Homo sapiens: one gene and its partners. The protein of the gene in region 1 interacts with the protein of each later gene in a pairwise test. Each region holds a gene or a part of one and is shown on either strand. Other genes may lie near its edges.

Evidence for each region.
Region 2: the proteins of MIP (region 1) and SGPL1 interact in binary tests that used the Homo sapiens proteins (3 or more experiments, as listed by UniProt).
Region 3: the proteins of MIP (region 1) and STX2 interact in binary tests that used the Homo sapiens proteins (3 or more experiments, as listed by UniProt).
Region 4: the proteins of MIP (region 1) and KCNJ6 interact in binary tests that used the Homo sapiens proteins (3 or more experiments, as listed by UniProt).
Region 5: the proteins of MIP (region 1) and AMIGO1 interact in binary tests that used the Homo sapiens proteins (3 or more experiments, as listed by UniProt).
Region 6: the proteins of MIP (region 1) and TM4SF18 interact in binary tests that used the Homo sapiens proteins (3 or more experiments, as listed by UniProt).
Region 7: the proteins of MIP (region 1) and TMX2 interact in binary tests that used the Homo sapiens proteins (3 or more experiments, as listed by UniProt).

What each region holds. Positions count from the first base shown.
Region 1 is NC_000012.12:56,451,858-56,455,984, reverse strand, and holds the start of MIP (lens fiber major intrinsic protein), read left to right. Parts: upstream 1-1,327; 5' UTR 1,328-1,371; coding exon 1,372-1,731; intron 1,732-1,937; exon of another isoform or gene 1,938-2,073; coding exon of another isoform or gene 2,074-2,076; intron 2,077-2,229; coding exon 2,230-2,394; intron 2,395-2,832; coding exon 2,833-2,913; intron 2,914-4,127. UniProt on the Homo sapiens protein: Aquaporins form homotetrameric transmembrane channels, with each monomer independently mediating water transport across the plasma membrane along its osmotic gradient.
Region 2 is NC_000010.11:70,857,448-70,860,947, forward strand, and holds part of SGPL1 (sphingosine-1-phosphate lyase 1), read left to right. Parts: intron 1-166; coding exon 167-243; intron 244-1,923; coding exon 1,924-2,052; intron 2,053-3,500. UniProt on the Homo sapiens protein: Cleaves phosphorylated sphingoid bases (PSBs), such as sphingosine-1-phosphate, into fatty aldehydes and phosphoethanolamine. Elevates stress-induced ceramide production and apoptosis.
Region 3 is NC_000012.12:130,791,676-130,794,250, reverse strand, and holds part of STX2 (syntaxin-2), read left to right. Parts: intron 1-2,273; coding exon of another isoform or gene 2,274-2,382; 3' UTR 2,383-2,575.
Region 4 is NC_000021.9:37,619,458-37,622,957, reverse strand, and holds part of KCNJ6 (G protein-activated inward rectifier potassium channel 2), read left to right. Parts: 3' UTR 1-3,500. UniProt on the Homo sapiens protein: Inward rectifier potassium channels are characterized by a greater tendency to allow potassium to flow into the cell rather than out of it.
Region 5 is NC_000001.11:109,506,928-109,510,883, forward strand, and holds the start of AMIGO1 (amphoterin-induced protein 1 precursor), read right to left. Parts: upstream 2,801-3,956; 5' UTR 2,493-2,800; intron 2,073-2,492; 5' UTR 1,986-2,072; coding exon 504-1,985; 3' UTR 1-503. UniProt on the Homo sapiens protein: Promotes growth and fasciculation of neurites from cultured hippocampal neurons. May be involved in fasciculation as well as myelination of developing neural axons. May have a role in regeneration as well as neural plasticity in the adult nervous system.
Region 6 is NC_000003.12:149,320,818-149,323,636, reverse strand, and holds part of TM4SF18 (transmembrane 4 L6 family member 18), read left to right. Parts: intron 1-1,200; coding exon 1,201-1,381; intron 1,382-2,144; coding exon 2,145-2,159; 3' UTR 2,160-2,819.
Region 7 is NC_000011.10:57,736,593-57,739,032, reverse strand, and holds part of TMX2 (thioredoxin-related transmembrane protein 2 isoform 1 precursor), read right to left. Parts: intron 1,426-2,440; coding exon 1,365-1,425; intron 1,248-1,364; exon of another isoform or gene 1,121-1,247; coding exon 1,007-1,120; intron 680-1,006; coding exon 603-679; intron 370-602; coding exon 263-369; intron 60-262; coding exon 1-59.

The DNA of each region.
Region 1 (4,127 bases):
CCTCTACCTTCACTATAACTCTCTTTCTGTCCATCCCCAAGCTGGGTATTATGAGGAGAAAGCACAGCCCCTGATCTGTGTTCCTTCTCTCTCCCCACAGGTGTACTGGGTAGGACCCATGCTGGGCACCATTCTTGCAGGCCTCACCTCGAATTTCTGCTCTCTGGTGCTTCATGAGAAAAGTTTGTGGCCGGTATGACTTGCCACTATGTGGAGATGGTAGAACCTATCAGTATGTCCCATTCTACCTTCTCCATCACCACACAACCCCACGCCTAGGTCCCAAGTCCCTCACCAAGCCCGAGCACAACTGAACCTCTTTCCCCAAACTTTCCTTCCCCATATTATCCTTTTCCCTCTCTTTGATCGGCTGTTTCCCCAGATCTGATCCCAGCACACCCATACCTTTCCCTGGGGATCAAGGCTTAGGGTGTGCTGATCATGGCTGTATTAAAGGACATTAGACCTTCCCATTGCTTCATAGCCATGACTGTTTCCTTCCTTTCAGTACTTCTTGCTATGACCATGTGAGTTAGGAAAGATGAAATACAAGCTGATTCTAAGGTTTAACTACGAGTCCCTTTCTTATTCCTATCCCTCCAACCCCACTCCCAGCCCATGCAGGGATGATAGTGTCTTCTCTCTGTCGGTCCCTGTAGTTTAAAAAGCCAGGCCTAGGGTTTGAAAAGGGAGGTGCTGTCATGGACTGGGGGTAGGGAACCCGGGCTCAGAGAAAGCCAGACGCAGCAGAACTATTTTGTCCCAGAGCTGCAGGGTCCACAGATTCCAGCCCAAACTAGCCAATGGGAGAAAGGCTTCTAATCCCTGGGAACTAAAGAATTCTCTTTAGTTATCCAACTTCCCTGCTGAACCCCACTCCTTACCACTCCCCCCAACCCTTACCCCTGGCAGACTCAGAGGAGGCTGAGGCCCCCAGGAGCTCAGCCCCAAATGCCATGAAGTGAGCTCAGCTTGATGGACCTTCCAAAGAGAGCTGAAGAGTATTCTAATGTTGATGTCAATCAGGACAATGAACCCCAATTTTGACACACACAGAAGGGCAGACTCTTCCAGTCCTGCTGTTCTTCACCCCCACTTCTCGTAGTCTCTCTTGCTGTGACCCCAATCCCACCCTCACTGCCATGGCTCTCTCGGCTCATCTCCCAGTTGAGAAAGGCGGGAAAATCCAGCATTTTTACCATGTAGGGGAGGGGACTTAGCCCTCCACAGCTGTGAAGGGGTTAAGAGGCTGGGCCTGCTACCTCAGCCTGCCCCTCCCAGGGATTAAGAGTCCTCTATAAAGGGGACTGTCCACCCAGACAAGGCCATGGGGGTAGCAGGGACCCAGGCACTGTGACCATCCCCCCTGCCATGTGGGAACTGCGATCAGCCTCCTTTTGGAGGGCCATATTCGCTGAGTTCTTTGCCACCCTCTTCTATGTCTTCTTTGGGCTGGGGTCCTCACTGCGCTGGGCTCCTGGACCCCTGCATGTTCTGCAGGTGGCTATGGCATTTGGCTTGGCCCTGGCTACACTGGTGCAGTCTGTGGGCCACATCAGTGGAGCCCACGTCAATCCTGCAGTCACTTTTGCTTTCCTTGTGGGCTCCCAGATGTCCCTGCTCCGTGCCTTCTGCTATATGGCAGCCCAGCTCCTGGGAGCTGTGGCTGGGGCCGCTGTGCTGTATAGCGTTACCCCACCTGCTGTCCGAGGAAACCTAGCACTCAACACGGTAATGGTTGGCTGAGAGGGGATGGGGAACCTGGTGTCCTGTCTCTCTATTGCCCTGACTCCCTGACTGGTGCAGGTGAATCAGCTCCCCTGGGGTCTGGGACAATATGTGCATGTGTGAGCATGTGTGTGTTGAAGTGGTGAGGATTGACAGGTGGTTTAGAGCTTTAAGGAAGGCATAGGGCCCTGGACTGAGAATTAAGAAACCTGAGTTTGAGTTTCAGCTTTCCTTCCAACTCCTTGCAGGTTCTTAAGGAAACTTATTTTACCTTTCAAGGCCTCAGTTTCCTCATACATGTAAGTGGCTGCAATCATTTCCATCATGAAGGAGCACTGTTAGGAGATGGTAAGATGCAAATACAATGATTATGAAGGGGGTTGTATTATCCTTCCTCTCCACGGACCTGATGCCGTAACGAGATCCTTGCCGGGGAAGTCTTGAGGAGGTAACACTGTGGCAGCCCTCCTGAGCTGTCTCTCTTCTTCTTCCTTTGCACAGTTGCACCCTGCGGTGAGCGTGGGCCAGGCAACCACAGTGGAGATCTTCCTGACGCTCCAGTTCGTGCTCTGCATCTTTGCCACATACGACGAGAGGCGGAATGGCCAACTGGGCTCCGTGGCCCTGGCCGTTGGCTTCTCCCTTGCCCTGGGGCACCTCTTTGGGGTAAGCAGGAAGGAGAGCAACTTCTCATTCAAGGATTCCGGGGCCCCTAAACCTTTCCCAACTTTTAAGGGTTCTTCCTGCCTACTTCACTGTCAAACATGAACATTGTCCATTGCACTCTCTACTGGCACAAAGGAATCAACTCTGCCCTATCCCTCTCTTGTGACTGCTATATCTAGTCCTTCTTGACCCCAAGGTAGAAATGAACGTATCATGGCTAGACATGGGCTTTGCCTATGGATCCATAGTCTGTTCCCAGACAGGGCATCAGTTGCCCTCACCCCATTGCAGGAACCCCTGGAGAGTCATGCAGGCTGTCCCTCTCCACTTGCTGCTGGCTGGAGAAAAGATGGCAGCTCTCAGGGGCAATGTGGGTTGTGGGGAGAGAAGCTGGGGTGCAGTAGGGGGGTGTCTCAGTTACAACTGTCTCTTTTGCAGATGTATTATACTGGTGCAGGCATGAATCCTGCCCGCTCCTTTGCTCCTGCCATTCTCACTGGGAACTTCACTAACCACTGGGTGAGTGAAGGGAGAGGGGCAAGATCCTGAAGCCCTTCTGGATGGTTGTGGACTGCAGGTTCCAGGCTGGATTCCTGCTTTCCTTCTGCGTGTGTTGGCTGCTGTACCAGCACTCAGCTAAGGGGGCTGTCAGAGAGTTTGGCATGCCTGTGTGAGCAGGATTCATGATTTTGCTAGAAGGAGAGGCTCTTGCTCATATTTTTCCTTCTCTGGTTAGTCAGGGAGTATGCACTGAGTATTCACTGGTTGCTGAACTAGCGGGTATGAAGAGAGACAACTAAATATGAGCAGAATAAATTCTGCTCTCAGAGATCAAGATGTGTTGTGAGCACAGATGGGCCTCAGCCCCATTCCAGTTCTAATACGTTATCGGCTTTGTGTGTGACCATGGGCAAATAATCACTCTGTGCTTCAGTTTGTTTTACTATAAAATGGGACATTACGAGAAATGTGTGAAAGTTATATGTGAGAAACATTTAGCACAGAATCTGATATAAAGTAAGCACTCAATAAATATTGGTTATGTTGATGTTGTGCAAGCCAAACATATGGAAATAATTTAAAAATTTTTCAAAGCTGTACACCCATTTTCATAACAGCATTATTCACAATAGCCAAGAGGTAAAAGCAACCCAAGTGTTCCTCAGTGGATGAATGGATAAACAAAATGTGGTATATACATAAATGGAATATTACCTGTAAAAAGGAAGGAAATTGTGACACATACCACAACATGGATGAATCTTGAGGACATTATGCTAAGTGAATAAGCCAGTCACAAAAAGACAAATACTGTATGATTACATTTATATGGGGTATTTAGAGTACTCAAATTCACAGACGCAAAGTAGAAGGATAGTTACCAGGGGCTGATGGGGGTGGGGTGGAATAGGCAGTTGTTTAATGGGTATAGAGTTACAGCTTTGCAAGATGAAAAAGTTCTAGACATAGGTTGCACAACAATGTGAATATACTTAACACTACTAAACTGTACACTTAAAAACATATATATATTTTTTTGAGATGGAGTCTCCCTCTGTCACCCAGGCTGGAGTGCAGTGGAGCTTGATCTCAGGATCTCAGCTCACTGCAACCTCCGCCTCCTGGGTTCAAGCAATTCTCCTGCCTCAGCCTCCTGAGTAGCTGGGATTTCAGGCGCCTGCCACCACGCCCAGCTACTTTTTGTATTTTTAGTAGAGATGGGGTTTCTCCCT
Region 2 (3,500 bases), on another chromosome or scaffold:
ACTCTATTGAACTTTTTTCTTGATTTGCTATAAGAATGCTGTTGGGTTTCCACTCAACATTTTTTTCTTTTGTATCCAGAGGAGTTTCTTCCTGTTTCTTCTTTATCAGAACCTGTCTTCCCAGAGATTCTTGCTTACTGACCAGTGACCTTACCTTTCTCTGCAGACGCCTTCTGGCAAGAGGGGAGAGCCTCTGGAACAGTGTACAGTGGGGAGGAGAAGCTCACTGAGCTCCTTGTGAAGGTGAGTGTCCAGTTCTTGAGGGAAGCCTGTGAGGTCTGTGCCAGTTTACATGACCTCCTTTTTTTCCCTTACTTTTGTAATTAGAAAAATTACTTAAGGAAAGCTTATTGGTACAATAAAACCATAAAAGTTTCTCTTCACCCAAACATAGGCGAATATGTATAATATTATCAAAGACATCTTCAGTCTGTAAAATAGTAAAATGTTATTTATGTTTTCAGTCTTTGCAGATGTCCTGTCTAGAAGGCAGATTACTAGGGAAGGTAGTCCTGTCAGATGAGATTTTTGTGGTGAGACAGATTTTGTTTGATAAGAAGAGATAAGATAGGGAAACTCTTTCATAATTTTCTCAAATCATGTGACCCAAGATGAGCAGTGGTCTCATGTATACTTCAAATAATTCTCATTCTTAGCTTCTTCCATTTCTAATCAAATTTATTTTTATTTTATTTTATTATTTTTACAGACAAAGTCTCACTCTGTCACACAGGCTGGAGTGGAGTGGTGTAATCATGGCTCACTTCAGCCTTGACCTCTTTGGCTCAAGTGATCCTCCCACCTCAGCCTCCTGAGTAGTTGGGACTACAGGCGTGCATCATGACACCCAGCTAATTTTTGTATTTTTTTGTTGGAGATGGGGTCTCACTCTGTTGCCCAGGTTGGTCTTCAACTCCCAGCCTCAAGTGATCCTCCTGCCTTGGCCTCTGAAAGTGTTGAGATTACAGCTGTGAACCACTGCACTCGGCCCTCATATTTATTTTTGAAACTCCACTTCATCATATAAAATTGGGGTTGTACTGATGATCTCTAAGGTCTTTGTGTTTGATTATTATAAATATGAAACTGTCCCTTACTAAATAAATATGGCAGGTTTTGCATAAGTTGGTGTAATGCTCTGATCTTCTGTGCTTAAAATCTTTCAGTAGCTTCCCATTATCTACAGGATGAAACTCAGGTTCTTATGCAGCAGAGAATACAAGTTTCTTCATGAGCCAGCTCCCACTTATTTTTTCTTAACTACTTCTCTTCATTTCCCACATAAACACTAATCCTGCCTTTTCTCTTTACTAAATGTGTCATGCTTTTACGTTGTTTTCCTTCCCTTCCATCATTCCTCTTGTTCCAAATGATGATTCCTACTCATCTCTCAAAGTTCCACTCAGCAGACACCTCTAGATCACTCAGGATGTTAGTTGTTCCCTCTTCAGGGTCCCTTAGCACTCTGTACACACACCTGATATTGCAGTCGATAACAACAGCTGCTTTGTGCCAGACACTCTACTAAGTGCTTCACATGCATTATGTTATTTAATTATTGCTAGAACACTAGAAGATAGCTACCATAACAACTTCTGCGTATGAAGAAACAACCTTAGATTATGTGACCTACACAGCTGAAAGTAATAGGCAAAGCTTAGACTTCCTCCTGGGTCGGTTTGGTGTTATAGTCTGCGCTTTTAACCATATTTATACTTCTTTCCTCATCACATTGTAAAATTATTTATTTACATGTCTGTCTCCTCTGCTATGTTTTGATCTTTTGGTTGAGGAATATATCTTATCTTTTTTTCCAGTTTATATTGTTGTGCCTAATACTTAGAAACTGTTGTTTAGTGCATGATTCTTTGTCCTGTATAGTGTAATAGTTTTGATTTCACATCTGCTTGCATTTTTTTGCAGGCTTATGGAGATTTTGCATGGAGTAACCCCCTGCATCCAGATATCTTCCCAGGACTACGCAAGATAGAGGCAGAAATCGTGAGGATAGCTTGTTCCCTGTTCAATGGGGGACCAGATTCGTGTGGATGTGTAAGTATATGCAAGGGGCATCCAATAGCCTTATTTTTTAGGTTAAAATAGAAGAGTTTTTAATAAATATTAATTATATTTTAAAAAATAAAAAATATTAAAAATATTTTACTACACAAGAAATATTTGATCATTGTAGAAAGGTCATTTTACTACACAAGGAATATTTGATCATTGTAGAAAGATCCTAATTAACTGCAGTTTTAAATGTTACTTGTAATTTTGTAACCTAGACAATGTCAACATTTTGGTATATATTCTTCTAGATATTTTTATTTTCACCTTTTTATTTTGAAAAACTTTGAACCTACATTGAGTTGCTAGGATGGCTTAAAGAACACCTTAGATTCACTAAATGTAAATATGTTGCCATATCTGCTCTCTACACTCTTTCCCTCCCTACCCGCTTCTTCCCTCATCCCCCACCTGCATACCTACCATTCCCCTATTTATCTGTGTATACTTTTGTTGTTCCATCCAGCAGTGTTTTTAGTGTACTTCTGGTTTTACCTGAGCCAAAGTTTAATTTATTATTTTGCTGTAAACTGAACCTCATTTAGTTGCTATTAGGCATAAAGAAAGGGGGAGGACATCATTATATTTAAAGAAACACATGAGGATTCTTTGTTTTACCTGTTCTTTCAAGTAGATGGTTGTTAGTTTTCGTAAACTATGATAGATAAACTTCTGTTTAGATCTGTTGTCTTTAGAAAAAACGAAATCTCAGGTTATGTAGGATAGATAGATTTAACTCAATATGCTGCAATGGTGTCCTAGAGGTGCTAATCCTATCAGATACTCATCATATTTGCAGTCATTATAAAGACTGCAGATTTAATTATTGAAGGGCCCATTCGAAGAGCACCTAATTTAGTTTCTTTTTTTTTTTCCAGGAAGCATTGTTTTTGTTTTGTTTTTCTAATATGTTGGCGCCATGAAAATCATCATGTTCAAATATTAGTAGTAATAAAGGTGATATGCCTGGCATTCATTTTCAAAGCAAAATACTGAAACTGTTAAAAACAGAACCACCCATAATACAGCAGCAGTTTCCCTTAGAGTACTGAGGTGAACAGGGTGACTTTCAGAGGGAAGATGATAATGTACTTACAGTATATTCTCCTATGCCATTAGACTCTTGAAGAACTTGTAAGAGGCCAGAGTGAATAGCCACAGAACAGTTTGGCCTTATCTGGTAAATTTGAAGATACATATATCTTATGACCCAGAAATTCTGCTACTAGGACATACTCTAGAAAAATTAGTACACATATATATCAGGATATATGGACATTAATATTCATAGCAATGTTATTCATGATAGCTAAAAACTGGAAGTAATTCAAATGCCTATCCACAGGACACAGATGAATAAATTGTGGAATGCTGTGTGTGCCTCAATCCATTGTAGCTCTTATTCAGATTGATGTACAAATTGCCTCATCCAT
Region 3 (2,575 bases), about 74 Mb from region 1:
CTTTGCTGAAAATATTGTACGTGATTTTTCTTCATTGTTATAGTAGTATTTTTCAATATTTTCATGATTCTAACATGTACTTTCTGAGTTTTTTCCTAGTAGCTATAATATGGTTAGTTTAATGTGGTTACACTAAAGATAAAATTACAATTTGTAGCGCGGACACAGTGAAATGCGCGACTTTTCATGGGCACTACTTGGCATTAAGGTTGACTAAAAGAAGGCTCCTCTCAGTGTGACCCCTGGGGAGTGGGGCTTGAAGTCCTGTGCCCCGGGCCTGGCTGGCCATTTCACCCTAGTGTCTGTAAATAAGAATGAACATAGAAGGATCCTCATTCATAAAAAGCAGACCAAAATGAATACCAGCAGTTATCTTTGCATAGGAAGGCAGTGGTTAATGTCCTTAACTTCACTTTTAAAATATTAACATAGCCTTTCATCCTTTAGCAATTGGCCTTCCTGGGGCTGGCTGCTGCCCCTCCCTGCAGGGTGTGCCAGGTGCAGGCCTGTCACCCCGGAGCATGGGTGGGATGGGCTGCTTTAAGGAGACAGGTGGAGTCTTACAGGTATTCGGTGAGAGGGCCCTGGCCCAGACCTGGAGCTGGACTCCCCAGGGTGTACCCTTTCCACTCTCGCTGTCACCAGGAGATTAGATGACTCCTGAGTCCTGTACCCTAGACTCCATGTAGTTGACAGTCATCCTGAAAGCCAGATGTGGCAGGAAAGTGCACACACATCGAGCACCCAGACACGTGGCAGGCAGCACAACAGCAGCAGGAGATGAGAGCACGCTGCGTGGAGCTGACTCCAGGTGGCCCAGCTGCCAGCACACTCACTTGCTGAGCGGGAGGGCGCGCGCCTCCCTCTGGAGGGAGGGAAGGCATCACAGAGAAAAGGAAGAAGAGGTTTCTCTAGGAAGGTGCTGAGAGTGGGGCGTAGGAGCGCATATAGAGGATGAGAGAGTGGCTGGGGCTTTGCAGGAAATGTGCGTGATGTTAACAGGGAACCAGAGTTTGAGGGAGGGGCCCTCCTGCAGGCAGCTCTCCCCGGTCCTGAGGAGTCACTGGGAGGCTCACCGGGGCCTGCCATGCGCCTCTTGATAACCCTGTATAACTGACTGAGCCGGCAGTCTTGGAACTGTCCAGGCTCAGCAAACAGGATTTCTTAGGTAAAAGCACTCGTACATTTGGAACTGTAATTAAAATGATGGATCTCTGCTGTTCAAAAAGAGAACTCAAAGTCCTACAGCGCGGTGCCTCCTGTTGTGTCTTCCTTTCCTTCCCTCAGACAAGCTTCCTGGAGGAGACTCCATTTATTAAGCCAAAGGTGGTCTCGCTTTGCCTTGTGTGAGGATACTTGTTAATTTTAAAAAAGTTAAATGCTGTGTCGCACCCTGCTTCCAGACCATCAGTGCAGTAGAAGAATGAATGAATGTCTTGTTGATTTCTTACACATTTGTCATATTTAAATGTAAAAAATGGATAAGGCCAGGTGCAGTGGCTCATGCCTGTAATCCCAACACTTCGGAAGGCCAAGGCAGGAAGATCGCTTGAGCCCAAGAATTCGAGACTAGTCTGGGCAACATAGCAAGACCCCATCTCTTAAAAACATATTTTTTAATTAGCTGGGCATGGTGGTGCATGCCTGTCATCCTAGCTCCTTGGGACACTGAGGTGGGAGGATTGCTTGAGTCCAGGAGGATGTGTTTGCAGTGAGCCATGTCTGCACCACTGCTCTCCAGCCTGGGCGACAGAGTGACACCTCCTTTCAGAAAAGAAAGAAAAAATAGGATTTTTCAGCCAACAAGAAATTCGTTTAAAGTTTTACAAATATGTGTAATTCATCCAATTAAAAGCAATCCTGGAGTTTTATTATGATTAAAAGAAAGTGTCGGCCGGGCCTGGTGCCTCACGCCTGTAATCCCAGCATTTTGGGAGGCTGAGGCGGGTGGATCACGAAGTCAAGAGATCGAGACTATCCTGGCCAACATGCTGAAACCCCGTGTCTACTAAAAATACAAAAATTAGCTGGGCGTGGTGGCGGGTTCCTGTAGTCCCAGCTACTCGGGAGGCTGAGGCAGGAGAATCACTTGAACCCGGAAGGCAGAGGTTGCTGTGAGCCAAGATCACATTCTTTTCTATGACATGGAGGAGTCCTTTCTTGATAATGGATGTATTTTTTAAACTATCCCAAATCCCAGAAGGATTAGTTAGCAAATGCCATTGTTGATTTCTTTGATACATTGCAAATTAATGTTTTTCTTTATCTTGCAGAAATTGATGTTCATTATTATTTGTGTAATTGTTTTGCTTGTGATCCTTGGAATTATCCTAGCAACAACATTGTCCTAGCAACCATATCCCAAGAGCCATTTATCCTTGAGACTCAGACCACATCTGCAACCAAATCAGCATCCTGTCATTTCGTGAATGAATCTCAGACGCTGTAACCCGGCATCGAGTGCTGACCTTGTAATGTATGAGTTCACGGAAGAAGCACAACCGAACGTCTTGTTCAGTGACAGCGCCGTAAGCACAGTGGGTGTGATGCGTGACCCTGAATGACACACTACAGA
Region 4 (3,500 bases), on another chromosome or scaffold:
TCTTGGCTTGGGGAGCTCCCCTGCAACCTTGCCAGGGTCGCAGGGCAGGCCATGGCAGGCACAAAACAAGATGGAATAGGGGCGGCAAAATGTCTTCTAATTTAGCTCTTGAAGACTCACTGGGCCTTTTTAATTCCATTGCTAAGGTTTAAAGGACAGCGCACACCCCCGTGTCTGGTTGGAAGAGCAAGCAGCTCAGGGCCTCATCCCTGCTTGCCTGCCCTTTAGCACAACTGAACGAAGAGCCTTGACAACACGTTGGCCACGTGCACCTGTCAGTTCTGTGTCTGTGACGGGCACCCAGATGTGAGGTCTCTCCCTGTTTCTCACTGTCTTTGTTGTCAATGTAGTTGGAGACAGAACTTGAACCAAATCTCGTTTTTGTAATGTGAGCCTCTGAATCTTTACATGGGGATGCTCCTGAAGAACCTTTTACTAGAATGTCCCTATCAAACATGTCTATTTTTCTACAGTTGTTAACACAGTTTAACAGTGTATTTTGTGTCAACTGTTAAAATTTGGAACTGAAAGTTCATTGAGACTGATTTTCTAAGCAGCGAGTAGTGAGTGAATGGTGTTTTCCATTAAGACAGCTCAACAAAATTGACCCCACAATTTCCACTCATTCTATTCCGCAATATCCAGTCCTCATTCCCTCAGTCACTCCATTAGCAAACCAAGTGCAATGAGAATTTTTTAAAAGTCTCTTTTAATACAACAGTATCCATAACTAATGAAGATCACTCTCAACTAGATCCTTTGGTCTGTTTGGTTAATGTATTTGAGTCATTTTTCCATAAAGCATGGTGGGATCCGTGAGCCAGATAAGAATTTGGAATTTAAGGGTTATGGTTTGCCACAGTTGACCCCAATTTGACAGAACAAAGTGCTCCTGGATGGAAGGGCAGGTTCAGCTGCAAGCATGACCCCCCACCACAAGGCTGCTGAGTTCCTCGGATTCTCACCTCCACCCACCCCAACGTGCTCTCCAACTGGAAGAGCACCCATTCATTTATAAATCAACTTTATGGAACCAATAAAATCATTTCTGTTTTAGCTGTCCCCTGGGTAAGCTATACTCTTTTACATTAACATAGCAAATGTCAACTTTTCTGTTCCTTCAAACATGGCCTTCCAGCCTGGTTGTTCCAGCATATATCCCCTCTATGTCCATGAGGCAGAACTCTCTCTTCCCCCACTCCGTTCTTCCATCTATCCCCATCCTTTGCTGTTTCCCTGGTTCTCCAGTTCCAATTCTATTGTTTTAGTTCAGTACCTTATGTTCCCTAACAGAAATCCAGCTGCAAATGTCAACCTATTTCTTAAGCACAATTTTCTCTTGCAGGTCTAACCAAGCTAGGGCTCTGAAATGTCTATTTTTCACTGCACTCCAATTTAAAAATTATTCATGACTTCATTTAATAGTCTAAATTTTGAATTCTCCAGAGCAACATTCTTATGCTTTCCATCCCTACATTTTCTTACATTTCAGTTTTCTTACTTTTTTCCCCTTTGCTTTTTTATTTAGATTTAAGCCAGTGTCTTTGGGATATTTAGAAACTGCTTACAAAGGTGGGAACTGGTGGACAGAGAAAGGGGGCATAAGAATGCTATTAGAAAACTACCTGAACTCACCAGAAGAATGGGAAATCATTTGATTTGCTGAGAGAATACAATTAAAATACTCATAGTAAATCATTTCCAAAACAGTTTGCTAATAGTCTGGCTACTCTTCAGTCTTTCTTTCCTTGACTTGGGTGATACTCTGTATGATTTAAAAATGTCAGGAAGGTAGTTGAAAGTTCAGTGTCCTCTATATATTGTAAACATTATCTTCAAGGATGATTTCCTTTCAATGGATGGCTTTAACATTGAAAAACATAGGTAACATATACATAATAGATGATTCATTGATATTACTTTACAATACACTAAAATAACATTATCTTGTTTCTGAACTTTATGGCCAACCGGTATCTAAGAAAATGTTAGCCTTTAATTTAAAATTGAGTAAAGCACGCCTCTTCCTAATATTTCTGCCTTTAATGTCTTGAGTGCTTTAGATGCAGAGTGTCATCTAGAAGTCAAAATTCTGTCAGAAGGCTGCTAAGAGATTTTGATAAATCACAGAATATATAATAATAACCCAACAATATTTTACCCAACATGGTGTGGTGTTTGAGAGCATTAAGAGCACTTGTACAAATTATCTTATTTCATTCTAATTCACCATGAGAGGTTGAGTATTATAATTTACATTTTATAGAGGGAAAACTAGGGTTTGGGCAAATTGGCCAAGTTTAAAGGCCAGTGAATCATAGCTCCTTGTCTCAAATCCAGGTCACAGGGCCCTAAGCTGTGGGCTATTTTTACTACAAAAAATTTCAGCAAACCAAATCTGCTAAAAAAAAAAAAATCTGGCCTGCTGCCTGTTATTGTACCACTTGTGAGCTAAGAGCAATTTTTACATTTTTTAATAATTGGGGGAAAAAAAAGAAAAGAAGAATATTTTGAGACATGTGAAAATCATCCTAAATTCAAATTTCAATGTCCACAAACAAAGTTTTATTGGAACACAGCCACAGCCATTTGTCTGTGTATTGCCTATGGCTGCTTCCACATGCACTCACAGAGCTGAGTAATTACAACAGAGACCGTGTGGCCAGCAAAGATTGAAATATTTACTATCTGGCCCTGTATAAAAAAAGTTTGCTGACCCCTGTACTGTACTGTTAAGTACTATTGGTACTATTAAGTACTAGTAATAGTACTATTAATAATAGTATGTAAGAGTACTAAGTACTATGAAATATTGTACTGTACTCTTAAGAGAGTCCTAGGCAATATAGAAGAATGACTTTTTTTCTAGCATAAATTATTGAAGTCACTCATAAGTCTGTTCAAAATAACATAACTCTTTTTTTTCGGTTGTCAAAGAGACAACTGCTTCACAAGACTTAGAGAGCCCAGTCATTCAGTTAGGGTCTCAAAGGAAGAATCCTTCCTTTTCATGCCATTCCTCCAGAGTGGCAAATAGAGTCAACAGCCAGCCAGGATCTAGCGGTCAACTCAGAAAGTGGATACAGTAAAATTACTCCTTAATGAACTACAGAGAAATGGGCATTCCCAGCCCAGCCGCTGAAATATTGCTTCAGTGGCACCCTCAGGCGTTGGATGATGTACATAGCTCAGGCTGCCAGTCTCTGCTCAGCAAAGCAGCCCAGACCTGCAGTGGTTGCCACACATCAAACCCGCCTCGCTCCTCCACATGGCTTCTCTCTTAGGCTCTCTTGGAGGAGAGTTAAATAGGTGGCCCAGATGTCTCCCTCTGTTTTCTTGCTAGTTTTCTCTAGCCTACAGTTTACAACTGATCAAGGTGATGAACGTGAACCTGGAACTAGCTCATGTTTAATTGCGCTAGTTTTTGCTCTCTCTAGCCACTAAGCTAGAAGTTTAATGTGTAATTAAAGAACTAAATGCTTCTTATGGAAAACCAAAAG
Region 5 (3,956 bases), on another chromosome or scaffold:
ACTTCCCCAGCTGTGAAGTTTGACTTGCTAAACAAAGAAGATACTACAGCTTTTCCCCAGTGTGGCTCCTGTGGAAGCTCCCCCAACACACACAACATCACAGGTGTGGGTGGGCAGAGATAGAAAAAATTTTTTTTTCTAAATGTTTTTCTCTTAAGGAGCTAGGGATGACCTCATGAAAGTTTAGGGAATCTGTTCTTCCCCTCACTCCTTCCTCATTCCCATCCAACTCAGACATGCTTCTCTTCCTCTACCACACTGAGAATTGGCAGGGCTTTGGGTACGGGTGTAGCATTTGCCTGAGGATTAATATACCCCCATTTGAAAATCGTGGCAGCCACGCCCTGTTTGGGGTCTTGCTCTCTGTTGTACCTGGGACCAATTCCCTTGAGGTCAGGAGGAATCCATTCCCTTGGGCAGCCAGCCCTCTCTTCCATCCCCTCATATCCTTCAGGGGTGCATTACCTCTCCTGGGGCAGAATCTCCCCACCAACCCATCCTGCTCACACCACAATGGGCGTATCAGAGAAGACCGAGCTGACTGATTCTGGATCCGACATCCTCCGTTGGCCCTTGCCTGTGGCCTCAGGCACTGGCAGGGTGTTGCCTGGCTTGAGCTTGCCGTTTTGACCCTGCCCAGGTCCAGCAGGTTCCAGGAAAGCCACCCGCCGGTCAAAACCATCATCTTTGTCCCCACCAGCCATAGGATCATGGTTGGGTGTGGTACTAAGCATGGAAGAGCTGAGGCTGTCTCCTTGATGGCTGGAAGGCTTCTCTACACCCCGGCACCAGCAGCGGCAAGGGGTGAGGTATAGGTATATGAGGACCAGGACCACACTAAGGATACAGCCCACTAGGGTGGTATAGGCTGTGTTGAGGGTGTCATGGTGTCCGTGCAAGGTGAAATTGTGCACTTTCAATTCCACAGACAGTGTCTCATTGAAAGTCTCTCCCATGGCATAGCAGGTATACACACCACCGTCCTCGACCTGCACCTGCTGGAAAAGAAGACTGCCATCCTTAGACACACTCACTGTGCCATTGGTCACCTCATCTAGCACCCGTTCATTACTTGGTGTCACCCACACCTTGGTCATCCCTTGCTGCTTGGTGTCACACTTGATGATCAAGGTGTCACCCAGGTGGGCCTCCCAGGCACGCTCCTTGTACTCGCCACAGTTGAGGAAACTCAGGTTGAAGACATTGTGCAGCTTCTTGGAGTTCATGCAGTACAGATCCTCTTGAAAGTCCATCACGGAGCTCAGCTGCCGATACTGCCAGTGTGAAAACAGCTGGTAGAGCTCACAGTCGCAGTTCAGGGGGTTGTTATGTAGGTACAGCCCATTCTTGATCCAGGCCGGCAGCTTCTGCAGGTCAGGCAATGGCAAGTTCTTCAGCTTGTTAGAAGAGAGATCCAGGAGCGTTAGTTTGGGTAGCTTGGCTCCTTCCTTGACCAGTTCCAGAGGGAAGCGAGAGATCTGGTTCTGGCTCAAGTAGAGTTTCTGCAGCTGGGCCATGTCATCGAAGGCGCACCGGTCCACCGCCATGATGTGGTTATTGTAGAGCAGCAGCACCTCCAGTACTTGCAGGTCACTGAACAGGAACTCATCCAGTGTACGCAGCTGGTTGGAGGAGAGGTCCAGGTAGCGCAGGTTGGGTACCGGGGAAAAGGCCTCAGAGGAGATGAAGTTCAGGTGGTTGTGGCTCAGCAGCAGGGAGTGCAGTTGGGTCAGGCGCGTGGGGGTCCACTCGGCCCGCAGGCGGCTCAGGTTGTTGTGACTGAGGTCCAGTAGTGCTGTGTAACTGGGCAAGGAATGGGGCACATTGGGCAGCTGCTGCTTGGAGCAGCTGAGGATGTTGCTGGCGCACAAGCAGGCGGCAGGACAGCTAACCACGGCTCGGCCAGCTCTGGCCACCTCAAAAAGCAGCAGGGACAAGGACGGCAGCAGGAGCCAGAGGCCTCTCGGGTCACGGTGGGGGTGCATAGTGTCACTGGAGTGGGCGAGGAAGGCCACAAGGAAGATCTGGGAGGAGGTCACCCGGGCATGTTCTGGTGGGGTACGGAAGGGTCACTTGAGAGAAAGAGGATGGGTTTGTGGTCACCAAGGACTCCAGAGGGAAGGACACCCTCTCCCACTTCCCCTCCCACCCTTACCTCCACCCCCTTTGGGCTAGGAGAGAGAGATGCTGGGTAGTTTCCAGGCACTGTGCAGGCAGTGGGCTGTAAATATCGGCCGAAGAGGAGGTGGCCCGAGGGCCTACTGGGCTGGGGTCACAGGGGTGCAGGCTGCAGGTATGCACAGGATGGCAGGGACTGCTGGGAGTCACAGGGATGGCACGGGCAGGGTTTGGAGGTGGGGTCGGTGTGCCTTTTGGGAGGAGCTGAGGGAAGGTCAACAGGGCACCGGGCTGGGTAGGACGCGTCCGGTCGGGGTTGAGGGTCCCCGGGGCCTGTAGGGGCGGGCTCCCCCCGGGGCCTCCGGTCACTGCACCTGCTCGGCGAGGACGTGTCTCAGCCCATGGCCGGTCTGGGAGCTCCGTCGCGGCCTCTCCCGGCGGCGCCTCACCGGCCGGCCTGTCACTGCGCCCACCTTACGCAGGGGCCCGCGCCCGGCACCGTCGCCTCCCGGGGACTTGCGGGGCCCCGCTCCGCTCACCCTGCCACCGCCTCGACCGCTGAGCCCGCCGGAGCCCACCGACCGCGGTCGCTGCCTCCAGGTCCGCAGGCCTGGCGCGGATCGGTGCGGGGAGCCGGAGGCGCAGCGATCCCAGCGGAGGGAGCGGCGTGGGGGCAGCGAGCACCGCGCGCGCGCCCGTCGCCGCCGCCGGAGCCTCGGGGCGCGTGCGCGCGGCGGGGGCGGGGCGCACGTGCGTGTGTTTGTGTCGGAGCCGGCCGGGCGGACGCGCGCGGGGTCGTTCCCTCAACCAGCGAGCTCCGGACGCTGAGCTAAAGACGAAAATTGGCAGGAAGAGCGGCACTGGCCCCTTAGGCTCCGCTATAACTTCCTCCATCCCCCATTCCCCCATCTCCCAGCACCCTTCTCGCTACACAGACCGGCTCTCAGGAAAAGTCTAACTAAAGTGAATTCGCTGCACCTACTCGGGCAAGAGGCGTCACATGTCTTTTAATTTCGCAAATTGAAGAAATCTGGCTCAGCTCCCGCCTGCCAATGTTGGCGGGAAATTCATTAGTCACATTCTGAGGTTCCCCCTCCCTTCTCTCTGTGGCTGTGGGGTCTCAAAAATTGGGGGAGGGGTTCCCCCCACCCCACCCCCGTCTTGATGCTACTAGTTCATGACCCTTGAGGTACCACTGAAGGGCACAGCTCCTTAGCCTGCAAGCCAGCTGCGCAGGAGTGAGGGGAAAGGGGGTGTTTGGTGAGCCCAGGCCCCAGAACACCCCTTTACAGACACCTCATGCACCTCTCCCCACTCCACCTGCTACACACACACACACACACACACACACACACACACACACACACACGGACTGCATACAAGCCAGGGACAATTTCCATTCCTGGAAACTCCGAAACCCTTCCCAGCCCGGAGGAAGTCATTCAGCCCTTAGGTCTGGCCACTTGCCTTCTTCCTAAACCAGTGCCAGCTCCCCACTCCCCTTATGGAGCAATTGCAACATAGTTTCTCTGTTACCTAATCCTCAAGATGAAGGCCAGTGGTGGAGGTGGAGGGGTTTCTTCTTTAGGGTGGCCCCTGAAACAACAAGAAGCTGTTACTAGTGTATGTTGTTTGGGTTTGGGGGTGAGGAAAGAGAGAGATGCAGGAAGAGCCTAGACCTTATCATTCAAGATGTTAGCTGTTCTTGAGATGGTGGACCATAAGAAATTACCTTTTTATTTGTTCCAGTCTCTTATAACAGCAAGATCAAGACTGAAATTAATGTCTCAGTAGATTAGCTTGCTAAGAGTTTTAAAAAGAATTTATATCTGTCACAT
Region 6 (2,819 bases), on another chromosome or scaffold:
TGAAGATAACAGGATTAAGAGATTAGAGTAAAAACAGGCATAAGAAATTATAAAAGTATTATTTGGGAACTGATAAATGTCCATGAAATCTTCACAATTCATGTTTCTCTGCCGCGGCTCCAGCCAGTCCCACCATTTGGGGTCCCCGACTTCCTGCAACATTGCAAGTCATCTTGTTTTAAATTGCTAGATGATCTGTGCAGAGCATGTACTAGGAACAGTCTAGAGGAGGGATCTGGAGGGACTCATTTCCCTGGCAGCTGAGATGGAGATAGGGGTAAATGGGGGTATGAGATAGGTTTAGGGAAATTTAACAGAAAGCCACATCTGTATTGTACTTTACAGGTTCCAAACTGTTTGTATACACATTCTTACCAAATATTCACAATAACTCTGGGGTTAGATATTTTAACCCCATTATCAAGATAAGAGTCTGGAGGGCCAGGCGCGGTGGCTCATGCCTGTAATCCCAGCACTTTGGGAGGGTGAGGCAGGCAGATCATGAGGTCAGGAGATCGAGACCATCCTGGCTCACACGGTGAAACCCCGTCTCTACTAAAAAAATACAAAAAATTAGCCGGGCGTGGTGGCGGGTGCCTGTAGCTACTTGGGAGGCTGAGGCAGGAGAATGGCGTGAACCAGGGAGGCGGAGCTTGCAGTGAGCGAAGATGCGCCACTGCACTCCAGCCTGGGCGACAGAGCAAGACTCCGTCTCAAAAAAAAAAAAAAAAGTCTGGAGGCCAGAGGGGTAAAGTTCTTTGCTCAACATCCTGCAGACCCAAATCCAGGAATTCTGATTTCATATTCTGTGCTCTTTCCCATTGGAGACAAGAGCCATTAACAATATAAAGAAATTCTCAGAGTGCCTCTATTTCCTGGAGCATTAGAAAGTAGAAAATAAATAAAGGTGGGGAAAGAGTAAAAAAGAAGGAAGTAGGAAAGAAATGGAAGAGGGAGAAAGAAAAACAAAGAGGCCATGGGGGTGATAAGGCAAGCACAACATTTATAACACACTAAGTATCTAGCTCAGTGCTATGCATAAGATATGTCCAATATGTGTATCTGAATGGTTTTTAAAATGTATTAATTCATATCTAATAACTATATATTTTAGTTATACAGTAATTTCTCAAACATACAAATGCTTGTAGCTTTCTTCCTTGGACCCAGTATGTAGATTTGGCCATGGGTCTCTCTCAGTTTCCTTACAGATTCTAGCATATGGATTCAGTGCCTGGAACCTGCACATGTTGTGGAGTGGAACATCATTTTATTTTCCATTCTCATAACCCTCAGTGGGCTTCAAGTGATCATCTGCCTCATCAGAGTAGTCATGCAACTATCCAAGATACTGTGTGGAAGCTATTCAGTGATCTTCCAGGTAACAGATTCTCATGGGCACCTGTAGCTCATCCATATTTCCCCCACTTCCCAGGATTCAATGAGGCTTTTTGAAAAGACTCTAGAATTCCATCACTTTCCCCCCATTTCTATTGCCCTCATCTTTATTCAAGCTCTAATATCTCAATTTTTTCTGATATCCCAATGTGTCTTGGCTTATCTATAAGGGTTGAATCAACTCAGTAATTGTAAAATCTGCATTTCTTGTTGTATGGTAAGGCTTCATAAGTGTTTTGAATGAGCAAAGTTTTAGTGTTCTACATAGAGATAACTCAAAGCATGATGAAATTTTACCATTTATCAAGAATTTCCCTGTTCATAAGTTAAGCAAAGGCTCAGAACCTTATCTCATTGAAATAACTTCTCTTCTGAATGCTGCTACATTCAACTAATGAACCTTTATCTCGAGTGCATAGGAGTGCTTTTGAAGAAGAAGGGAAATATGTATTTATCCCATTGAAACTACTTCTACTTCGTCTGCTAAAATACTAATGTTAATTTAGTTATGGTTGAAACTGCTATCAAGAAGTCCAGAGTGAAGAAAAATTATGAATTTAGATGGCTTGTATTTTGTTTAACAACAGAATGTGTAATACCTTTCCTAGCAATTTCTAAGAGATGTTTTTTCTGTTCTATCATATTTTGAATATGAAATATAAGTTTAAGTTGCTATCTGGATTACGGATTACTAATCAAGCCAAGTTTATAACTTTAATCACTTTGTTTTTCCTTTTTTCCTATAGCCTGGAATCATTTGAATAAGGACAAAATGTTTTCCATTATCAAGACATGGCCATCTATCTAAATATTATATCAACTGTGTAGACTTGAGGGCAATATTGAAATGATGGTGCTTTCTGCATTTGGTGTTTATTTGTAAAAAATTTGCAGTCCTCACTGCACATGCAAGTATACCACCCTTCCATTTAGTATGTTTTTTAAGTAATATGCATCAGAAACTTCAGAAATACTTCTGCCCTTTGATCAAACAAATCCATTTCCAAGAATCTGTACTAGGGAAGTAAATAAGAATATGAGAGAAACCTTTATGCAAATATGTATATTGCAACATTATTTAATATTCTGGAAAATTGGAAACACCCCAAAATTCTAAACTCAGAGGAAGGATTAAGTAAAGAGTGGTACATACTGTAAATGTTTTCTGATATTAAAAAAAAAATTAAATAAAAAATAAAGAGTACTACATGGTTGTAAAATTACAGTCATTACAAATGATGTTTTTAAAATTATGAATAATGCTACATCAAAAAGCAGGTTACAAATTCATGTTTACTATATAACTATTTAAAGCAAATGAAACACTAATAGTCAAAGTTTAGGATGAAAACTAAATCTAAAAGGAAATATAACAAAATGCCAATTATGCTTGGTTTGGGGCATTGATGACCCTTCTTCCC
Region 7 (2,440 bases), on another chromosome or scaffold:
TAACATCAGTATAGCGTCCAACATCCACCTTCCCAAAATTTAGCCCTGTACAGTTGTATCTGAAAAGAATATATTATTTAATATGCTGAAAAAAAATAATGGATCAAGGAAAGTGGAAGTATAGATATTTAAGAGGGGAGAGGGAGATGCCTTTGGTTACCATGTGTGAAAATCAAGGCCAAAAGAAAAAGAAAAGCCAAAAACAGTGAGAGGGAAGGCACAGCATCTCCATTTCCACCATCCCTCCCTTTGCACTACTCACTTAAGGGAGAGGTCAGCATAGATAGGGGCAAATGATTGGCAGTCATTAGACCAATTGGCAAAGAACTCCACAATCCAAGTGACCCTCTTGTCCCGTTCTAGTTCCTCCTGCCAAATACAGGGAAGAAAAGTCAGCTGGATCCACATAGCCTCCTGGGAAGGTTCAGACTTTAGCATCTAATTCCTCATCCTGGTGTTCCCTCTCCCCCGGCTCTCATAATGAACCACAGTGCCCGTGACATCCATTTTGAAGCACTGTTGTTCCTCCTAGTGAATGGAGAGCACAACTACAAAATCACCCACAAGGGACCCAAGAAACAGAAAGGGGAAAGAGCACTCACATCAATGGTTTTATCATTGAAGTACTTGATATACTCAGGGCCCATATATAGGGGGGGTTTGCACGTCATCAGGAACACTAAATACAGAAAGAAGATGTCGAAGGAAACATAAAAAGCCTTACACAGGGAATTTACTTCCAAACCAACCCAAGGATTTCAGCCCCCAAATAATACACACTTGTGGATATATGTAGACCACCAACACATTCCCTACCTCTACAATAACAGTCTCTGTAAACTGTTATCATCTGAGCTACATATATAATTCATTAGGTATGAGATATGGAAGAAGGGTATGGAGAAACATGTTTGGGATTGCAACTGTTGGGACTGTGGTTTCCACAATCAAGTCTATCAACACAGTCTTACAAAAAAAAAAAAAGAAAGAAAGGCAGTCTCCTCACCTATGCAGAGTGTGATGTAAAGTAGGCCCATGCGAATATCCAAGCGGAAGAAAAGAATTGTGTTGGCCACTTTACTAAACATGAAAATGTTGCCTATATGTTGCTCCACAGTGACTGAAACACAGAGATGTCACAGGTCAGGCTGGGCTGTGCACTCCTATATCCCATTCTTTGTCCCTCTTCATGGGGCACTTTGAAATAGGAGACAGGGAGGGGATAGAAGTCCAAGTTCAAATTCAGCCTTGGAATTAAACGTAGGACAAATTTACCAAATGATTGCCACTCTCTTAACATGAAGCAAAGCACCTCCAAAGGGCATTAGATCTAACCTTGAGTCTGAGAAGTGAACTAAACTTACTGGATCTGCGGTTCTTCATCATCACAATGGCACTGAGAAACATCAGGATCTCCACTTCTCTCTGGAACAGAATCGAAGTATTATAACAGGAATGCAGTGACTAGAGCTAACTTAGGTGGGAAAGGGAACTAAATATGTAATAAAAACCAATAGCGATCCAAACTGGGAATGGGAACAATAAAGAACTGCAGTTAGGTAAGGTGTACGGGGATAAACATCAGTCAGAAGACCTGGATTCAGGTTCTACTCCTGCCACAAACTTGCTGGTGCTTTTCTTTTTGAGACAGAGTTTCACTCTTGTTGCCCAGGCTAGAGTGCAATGGCGCGATCTCGGCTCACTGCAACCTCCGCCTCCCAGGTAGCTGGGATTGCAGACATGCGCCACCACACCCGGCTAATTTTTTTATTTTTAGTAGAGACAGGGTTTCACCATGTTGGCCAGGCTGGTCTCAAACTCCTGACCTCAGGTGATCCACCAAAGTGCTGAGATTACAGGCACGAGCCACCGCGCCAGGCCTGCGGTGCTTTTCAACAAAGCACTTAATCCCTTAGCTTTGGTTTCCTCAACTGAACAGTATCTATTTCAAAATGCTACTGGGGGATTAAATGAGATAACAGATTAAAAAGAGTTGTATAAAGCATGATATGGTATAAAATCGTAAGATTATTAATATCAACTCAATGTGACGCTGGTAGAATAAAACTTTTCCAGGTAAGTTTTCTTGATAATAGCCCATTAATATAATATCTAGCTATTCCACATGTTTAATTTTTTTTTTTTTTTTGAGACAGTCTTGCTCCATCGCCCAGGCTAGAGTGCAATGGTGTGATCTCAGCTCACTGAAACCTCTGCCACCTGGGCTTGTGTTTCTCCTGACTCAACCTCCCAAGTAGCTGGGACTACAGGCGCACACTACTGTACCTGGCTAATTTTTGTATTTTTTGTAGAGACCGGGTCTCCCCATGTTGCCCGGGCTGGTATGGAACTCCTCAGCTCAGATGATCCGCCCGCCTCGGCCTCCTAAAGTGCTGGGATTACAGGTGTGAGCCACCGAGCCCGGCCCCCATTACTTAAT